Homo sapiens: one gene and its partner. The protein of the gene in region 1 purifies or fractionates together with the protein of each later gene. This does not show direct contact. Each region holds a gene or a part of one and is shown on either strand. Other genes may lie near its edges. The genes, in order: PASD1 and BMAL1.

Evidence for each region.
Region 2: the proteins of PASD1 (region 1) and BMAL1 purify together in Homo sapiens (co-immunoprecipitation; one study listed by IntAct). This does not show direct contact.

The regions. Positions count from the first base shown.
Region 1 is NC_000023.11:151,562,303-151,566,616, forward strand, and holds the start of PASD1 (circadian clock protein PASD1), read left to right. Parts: upstream 1-1,372; 5' UTR 1,373-1,537; intron 1,538-4,314. UniProt on the Homo sapiens protein: Functions as a suppressor of the biological clock that drives the daily circadian rhythms of cells throughout the body. Acts as a nuclear repressor of the CLOCK-BMAL1 heterodimer-mediated transcriptional activation of the core clock components.
Region 2 is NC_000011.10:13,378,704-13,382,513, forward strand, and holds part of BMAL1 (basic helix-loop-helix ARNT-like protein 1), read left to right. Parts: intron 1-2,457; coding exon 2,458-2,551; intron 2,552-3,810. UniProt on the Homo sapiens protein: Transcriptional activator which forms a core component of the circadian clock.

The DNA of each region.
Region 1 (4,314 bases):
AGCTAGACACAGAGTGCTGATTGGGGTATTTACAAACCTTGAGCTAGATACAGAGTACGGATTGGTGCATTTACAATCTCAGCTAGACATAAAGGTTCTCCAAGTCCCCACCAGATTAACTAGATACAGAGTGCCGATTGGTGCATTCACAAATCCTGAGCTAGACACAGGGTGCTGATTGGTGTGTTCACAAACCTTGAGCTAGATACAGAGTGCTGATTGGTGTATTTACAATCCCTTAGCTAGACATAAAGATTCTCCAAGTCCCCACCAGACTCAGGAGCCCAGCTGGCTTCACCCAGTGGATCCCACAGGGGGCCGCAGGTGGAGCTGCCTGCCAGTTCCGCCCAGTGCGCCTGCACTCCTCAGCCCTTGGGCAGTCGATGGGACTGGGCACCCTGGAGCAGGAAGCGGCACTCCTCCGCAAGGCTCCTGCGCACAGGAGCCGACGGCCGGGGCAGGGGGAGCAGGCGGGGGGGCGGGGAGTGGGGCTGGGGTGAGGGGGCAGCGGGGGGGGCGGGGGGTGGGGGGGCGGGGGGCGGGGGGTCGGGGGTCGGGGGGGCGGGGGGCGGGGGGGGCGGGGGGGCGGGGGGTGTCGGTGGTCGGGGGGGGGCGGGGGGGGTGGAGGCTCGGGCATGGCGGTCTGCAGGTCCCAAGCCCTGCCCCACAGGGAGGCAGCTAAGGCCTGGCAAGAAATGGAGCACAGCAGCTGCTGGCCCAGGTGCTAAGCCCTTCACTGCCCGGGCCTTGCGGGCCCACCGGGCCACTCCGAGTGCAGGCCCGCTGAGCCCACGTCCACCCGGAACTTGCGCTGGCCCGCAAGCGCCGCACGCAGCCCCAGTTGCCACCGGTGCCTCTCCCTCCACACCTTCCCACAAGCTGAGGGAACCGGCTCTGGCCTTGGCCAGCCCAGAAAGGGGCTCCCACAGTGCAGCGGTGGGCTGAAGGGCTCCTCAAGCGCGGCCAGAGTGGGCGCCAAGGCCGAGGAGGTGCGGAGTGCGAGGGACGGCTGCGAGGGTTGCCAGCTCGCTGTCACCTCTCAGTTCCACAATAGAGCCATGATTGGACTCAAAAAGACCCCTCTTTTCTGGGATCCATACATTTTCTGGGCTCCATTAGGTCCTGCTTAGGTAGTGCTCAGGGGTCCAGGGAGGGTGGAGAGCCTGTATTGGGGTGGAACCCTTTGACTCGACAAGCTAAGGGCTACGTTGAAGTGGCTTATCTGCACTCCTAGTTCCAGAGACAGTAGTTATCTCGGGCCCCAACATCGCGAGGTCTAGGGAAAAATGCTACCACTCCTCCCCCCTACTTCCGCTGCCACGCTGCCTCCATGCCTGCCTCCCCTCTCTGCCACGCCCCCACCACGCGCTTTGCACTCTGGGGCCCACGCACTTCCCTGAAGAGTCTAGAAGCTGCTCCTCATTTCCAGACTTTCCGGGCGCCCACCAGGCTCCCGGGCTCTCACCGGAGACCACAGGGAGGAGCTTCAAGGTACCCCAAGTCCCTGCGGCCTCCAGCAGTGAAGAGTTCCACAAGGGTGAGTGAAGTCCGTTAATGAAAGCTACTGCAAAGTAAAATGCCTTGGGGTGGCGGCGGGGAGCCAGCCCCTTTGTCCCTCGGTGGCTGAGGAGCCCAAGCTACTCCATCAGAGACATTCCCTGCAGGACCCTCGTTTTCCTGGTCATCCTGGGAAGGTTGGTTGGGATGAGGCAGAAGGAGAGGGGTGGCAGCGGGTAGCTGGGGGTTACACGAGGAAGACCCCCACATTCTGAACCTCCTCCTGCATTGGGCACCATCGTAGGTGCACCATAGGAGGCACCCATTGATTTTTCTTTGGACATTTCGAGAAATTGAAGCAGAGTTGGGAAGAATGGAAAGCTTGCGGTGTCGCGAATAGGCCGGTCTGAGCGGGCGGTTCGGGTGAGAACGCCAGGCTCTGTCCGGCAGGTCTGGGGCGCGTCTCCATTACCACAGTCGGGGACGGTGTGCTGGGGTGGGCGCGTATATCGAGAGGTTTGCCTGGTTTTCAGCAGATTGAGCAGTTTGTACACGTGAAATCTCAGACTTCAGAATTTTCAGGGCAGTAGCGGCTTTTCAAAGGATCTGCTTGAAGTTTTTGTTGTCCTTTGGGTTTGTTTTTTGCTTTTTTGGATTTCAAATGATGAGGAGTTTATGTCAGGATGTGTATTTGGGCACACTTACACGGAGAGCACAGAAGTTGTGGCTACCTTAGAAAATGTGTTTTTTCAAAATGGAGTCAGATTAGCGTGAAAGTGCCAGCAGCCATGTATCTGAAGACCGATAATGGAGGCGAACGTCGGTGCGGTGGCAGGCATCTTAGTCTCAGCTACTGGTTACGGCTGAGTTTGAGACCAGCTAGGGCGGACTTAGCGAGACCTGTTCTCTACAAAAATTAAAAAAAAAAAAAAAATTAGCTGGGCGTGTGGTGCCCAACTAGTCAGGAGGCTGAGGTGGGAGGGATCGCTTGAGCCTGGGAGTTCGAGGTTGCAGTGAGTCATGAATGAACCACGGCACCCCAGCCTGAACAACAGAGCAAGACCCTGTATTTTCAATCAAAACTTCCTTCAAAAATTACAACTCATAAGACAATAATTTATCAGTTACTCATCCATCTTAAGGGAACATAACTTTCCAATGTATAAAATCAAGAATGTAAATTAATCTACCCTGGATTATGTAATATGCATGCCATACACCACACAATATGCCAGGAAAGGCAGGTGGCAAAGTCATGCTCCAAAAGAGATCCAGGAACAGAATCAGGCATCCTGGTTTTTTTGAGGTATCCCTACTGACTGGCTGTGCTTTTCTCTAACCTTAGTTCTTTCAGTAAGTTAAGCTGTATCTAAAGTAGATTTGTTGTGCTTATTTCTCTGCCAGTTCTAGAACAGAGAGTACTGAGGGGTAAAGACACTCAGGCAGCAAAAGAAAATCCTTTCCACCAAACTAAAGAGAATGGGCAGAAAGCATTGGACTCATGACTTTGAAAGTATTCAGGCCAATGTAGCCAGTAGATGCCCTCCAATCTGTCAGTACTTACTTAGAGAGACATCTGTCTTTGAGATTAGCCTAGCACTTCCTTAGGAGAGTTGGCAGTGATGGAGGGAGGATGTGGGGGCGGGAACTGGACCTTTCTTCCATCAGCAAAGAACAGGCGTGAGGGCTGTTCCTCCTTTTCTTTTCCCAGCAAGTCAGGAGCCAGTGGGAAGTGGCTTTCTTTTTTCTTTTTCCTTACTTTTTTTTTTTTTTTTTTTGAGACGGAGTCTCGCTCTCAACCAGGCTGGAGTGCAGTGGCGTGATCTCGGCTCACTGCAAGCTCCACCTGCCAGGTTCACGCCATTCTCCTGCCTCAGCCTGCCAAGTAGCTGGGACTATAGGCGCCCGCTACCATGCCCGGCTAATTTTTTTGTATTTTTAGTAGAGACGGGGTTTCACCATGTTAGCCAGGATGGTCTCGATCTCCTGACCTGGTGATCCGCCCGCCTTCGCCTCCCAAAGTGCTGGGATTGCAGGCATGAGCCACCGCGCCCAGCCAGAAGTGGCTTTCTAATGGCTGGCCTTTATGGGCAGATTTCTTTGCAAAGTAATTCACAGATACCCAGTTTCTTGGGTAATAAGAATTAGACTAGAAATCCTCCTACTCTTAACTGAAAGTTGATAGGGTTGATAAGGTAATTAGGATTATGGGGAGAGCATTTGGTTGTTGGTAGTAAAACGAAAATTTGTGATAAAAGTGTAGTTTAACTCTCCTGGTTTTGGTTTCAACATTTCATTCAACACATATTCAGAAGTTCTGTTAGAGGCACGTTTTGAGCTAAGATACAGGGCAAAGCAACTGAGAATAAAGATGCAGCTTTTAGGGAGTCCATAGGCTAGTGGAGCAGAGAAACGTGCAAACAAATTATTATATCCCATTATTTGCTTTGAGCTATAATATGTGAATAAGAAACCCAGACACTGGACTTCAAAGAGAAGGGAGTGATCAATTTACCCTGGGTTAGGGCCTCAGCCCATCTTCCCCAAAGAGGAGGATTTAGATTGGGTTTTAAGTTATGAGATTAATAACTCTGGAAGGAGAAGGCAGAGGGAGACACACATACTAACAAAATGATGGAGGAGCAAAAATGCCTAGCATTTTCCGAAGCAGGAGGTGACCAGGTGAGGGTGGCTATCCTTGTGACCTTTGAAAGAGGAGGGATCAGTTTGAGGAGTTGCCTTTCATTTCTTGGACATTAGGGAGCCACGGCAGGATTTTAAGAAAGTGATTCCCTGTACAGGTTGATACCCTTTATC
Region 2 (3,810 bases), on another chromosome or scaffold:
AATCCTGCCTTAAATAAAGAAGCTAAACCAAAATAGCCCAGCGCTAAAGAGAATTCTTGAGAAGACTTAACTTTCTTATGGCTCAAGGAGCTTCTCAGTGCGGATAGATGTACCTTTACTTTACAGGAATGCAGGAGTAGAGCTGTGAACTATCAGAGTGATCTGGACCTTAACAAAACATTCACTTTTTTTCAATCAAAGAGCTGCCCAGGATTAGTACTAGAAACCAAGCAGATCAGCTAGTTATTACTAGCTGTCTTGGGAGAGACTTCCTTTCCATATGAAAGAGAAGGAGCTTAGAAGCAGTCCACCTGGGTCTGAGTCCTGGGCCTGTCTCTCTACCTGGCTATGCTGAGACTTACTTAACCTCTTGCTCTCTGTTGATTTAAACCATAAAAAGAAAGCACTATTTCCCAAGAATTGTGTTAGGATTGTGAGGGCACTCAGGAAAGTTCCAGGAACACAGCCTGACATATAGTGAGTGCTTAAAAATTAATTAAATCTGTCTTTAAGAGCAGTCGAGAGGGAAGCAGTTATCATAAGTCTGTCCAAATTTGGGGAATAGAGAAGGTGGTAACCAGATTCTTCAGAACGAAACTTAATGTAACATAAGAAAAGGAAGAAAACACTGCTGCCGCTGGATTCTCTCAGGAGAATTAGAGGCTGGCCTGTTTTCCAATTGGCCATAAAGGGGCTGTTATCCCCCTATAGGTAACACAGCTCTTTTCCAACCCCACAGGATTAGTGGGTGTGACTTCTGCATCAGGAAGGAGACATGAGGGTAGTGTGCAGTGTAATCAGGTTCAAACCCTATACTTTGCATTTGCATACCCTGTATTTTGCTTGAGACCATCCAAGAACAGTATCAAACAGTCCTTGACCTCAAGAATTTTAAAATCTTTTATAAGTCTATTTTCTTTATGATAACAGGAAAAAGGGAGGGTGCATGGGCCAAAGCAAGCAAAAGAGGAAAGATTTGAACTTGGCCTTAGCCAGGGTTTGCAATAAGAGTGGATGTTCCCTCTAGAAAAGCCAGGGCTATTCTTGAGTGGGCATGTGAGTGGCAAATTCAGGGTCAAGAAACAAGCTACCTAACTGGGCAGGCTTTGTGTAGGAAGGAGACACAGAGCTATGATAGGCGATTAAGAAACACAAGAAATGATACTGTGCAGTTTGGAAGAAACCTGTAAGACCCCATTTGTTGTAGGATGCTGAACAAGCATCCAAAGTCTTGTGTTACGCTTTGTGGAAGTTGCATTGGAATAGGGAGAGATGAAGGTGGGCATGTTTGACAACTCAGGAATGAGGCCTTATCCTACAGAGATGACACTGCCAAAAGAGAAATCAATCATCTAAGGTCTAGCGTTTGAAGATGAAATCAGGAATGATGAAACAGCAATTCCAAGATGAGAAACCTGGGAAAATAGTGGTTTCATAGACATAAGTAGAGAAAGGTGGGGGACACTCAGCAATTTTTCCGTAAGCAATTAGCAGCCGTTTGTGCATGCTGAGAATACATGATATGTAGTTGTAAACTGCCGTTAAGAAGCTTCTAATCCAGAAAGAAAACTTGTTCACTCATAAATCTAGAGAACTAGGCAGTACAAGAACCAAAAGACTTCTGGGTGGTGGAGGAGTGGTCTCTGGGTCACCCAAAAGCTACATTCATCCATGTAGGAGCTGAGAGTCCTGTGGTTACACAACTGCCATCACACTCTCCCTAAACTGTAGCTGCAATGCCAAGTGATGGATTCTTTCCTGAGGTCCTTCAGCCTGACAAGTATTTAGGTGGATTTACAGTTCTAAGTCTTCCCTTCTATAAATCTTCTGAGAGATATGCTAGATAAGAAAGGCCTGGACCCATTTTTCATCAACCACTGCCTTCGAAGGCTGCTTTTCCTGTCACTACTACTAGGCTACCTTTTAGACCCTGGTGCCGTCCATGTCCTAAGAGTATTCACTAGCTAAACAGTGTTTGTGGAGAAGGGGACAAATTGTTTTCTGTGGATCAAAGATGGAGGTTGATCTTAGAAGTTCTCCTCCAATTCACCTGGATTCTGTGAGGAAATAAAACTGGCCACTTACTTGAAATTCACCAACTGAATGCAAACTCCAATCCAAGGGCTTTGTCAGTGAGATGCTTGACTCTAGGGACTGCATTCTAGATCAGGTGCCTGTAGAACAAATCCAGCTTGTCATCTGTTTTTGTAAATAAAGTTTTATTGGAACACAGCCACACCGATTCGTATCTGTGGCTGCTTTCAAGCTGCAGAGGCAGAGTTGAGCATTTGTGACAAGACACCATATGGCCTAGAGAGCCTACTATCTGGCCCCTTACAGAAAAAGCTTGCCAAACCCTAATCTAGATCTTCATCCCCTTTCTCACCTTTACCCCTTAACAAAGCACATACACTCCACTGAAAAAAGAAAAGGCAGTGTAATTCTCTTTTCTGACAGGATAAGAGGGTCATCGCCTTCTAGCTGTGGCTCCAGCCCATTGAACATCACGAGTACGCCTCCCCCTGATGCCTCTTCTCCAGGAGGCAAGAAGGTAAGACTGATGATTCTTAGCCTAAGCTAGAGAACCTCTTGCCCAAGATCTGAAATGTTGGGGGTGGGAGTATGGAATTGCAACTGCGATTGCTGAAACAATTTGGACTACTTCCTCCTTGAAGTAAATGCATCTGTGTGAGGCTGGATACAAAGCATACTGGTAGGGCTAGGGAGGCTTGCTGACATCCTCAGAGGCTTTCTTCCATGTGAGTGGAAGAAGGGAGAAAGAATAAGGAATGGGGAACTGTCAGTTCATTTAATTGAGGGAGCAATTCAAGAGTTCCCATGAGGGAAAGATTATTGAGTACCTCACATAGAAAAGTTTCTCATTTTCTGCCAGGAATTTTCAAGGGAGAAAATATTAGTGTCTAGGGCAGGCAATGGAAACAGCAATGCCACCAGCAGTGCTTTGGAAATCAAGCCATGCTTTATAGCTGCAGAATACTTGGGGATCTGCTGCCTGGGGGTTCCATTGGTGTGACAGCATTGGATCCAAGCAGTGGATCAATCACCAGCCCTCATGAAGAGCTTGCTATAAGACTACACTATAAATAGGTTTAGGAACCAGTCATTTGTTTTCATCTTTGCTGGAGAACTTATAAGCCTAGGCCCATCTTAATCGTAAATTATAAATCTGTTTATATTGCCTGATGCCAGTAGAGCTTAGGACAGTTTAAAGGCCATCATTTTGGACACAATGGCTTCCTTTCCCCATCTCCTAAAACAGAGAGAGAGAATATCAGGAATTTCCATAGGCAGGACTCCTAGGGCACAAACCATCAAAAGCAGGGCAAGGATTTTCAAAACTGAGCTCCTCGGAGGTTTGTTCAGGTTACCAAGAGCTGTGGTGTTACCAGGTGGGATGGGCGTGGGGATAGTTGCTAAGGAGAGAGGGTAAGAGTAGAAATCCTGCTTCTACAAGGGCAGCAATACTTCTTTTTTATACAGGAATCTTCTGCAAACATTTCTATTTGAAAAAGCGTTTTGCTCCCCCCAAAAAAGGTTGAAAGTTAACAAATTAATGGGTAAGACTACAAAGTAAGACCTGGGTTCGAAGCTTGGCCTTGCCATGTGCTAGTTATGTGAACTTGTACAACTTTCAAGCCCTAGTTTTCTTTATAATGGAGCTAATAATGGTTAGGGTAGCCAGCATCTTTGCACGAGGTCCTACTGTGAGATAATATATGTGAAAGTGCTTGGCCCAAAATACCACTGACAGATGAAGTCTGAGCTTGGTGTCCCGTGACCCCCGCCCCC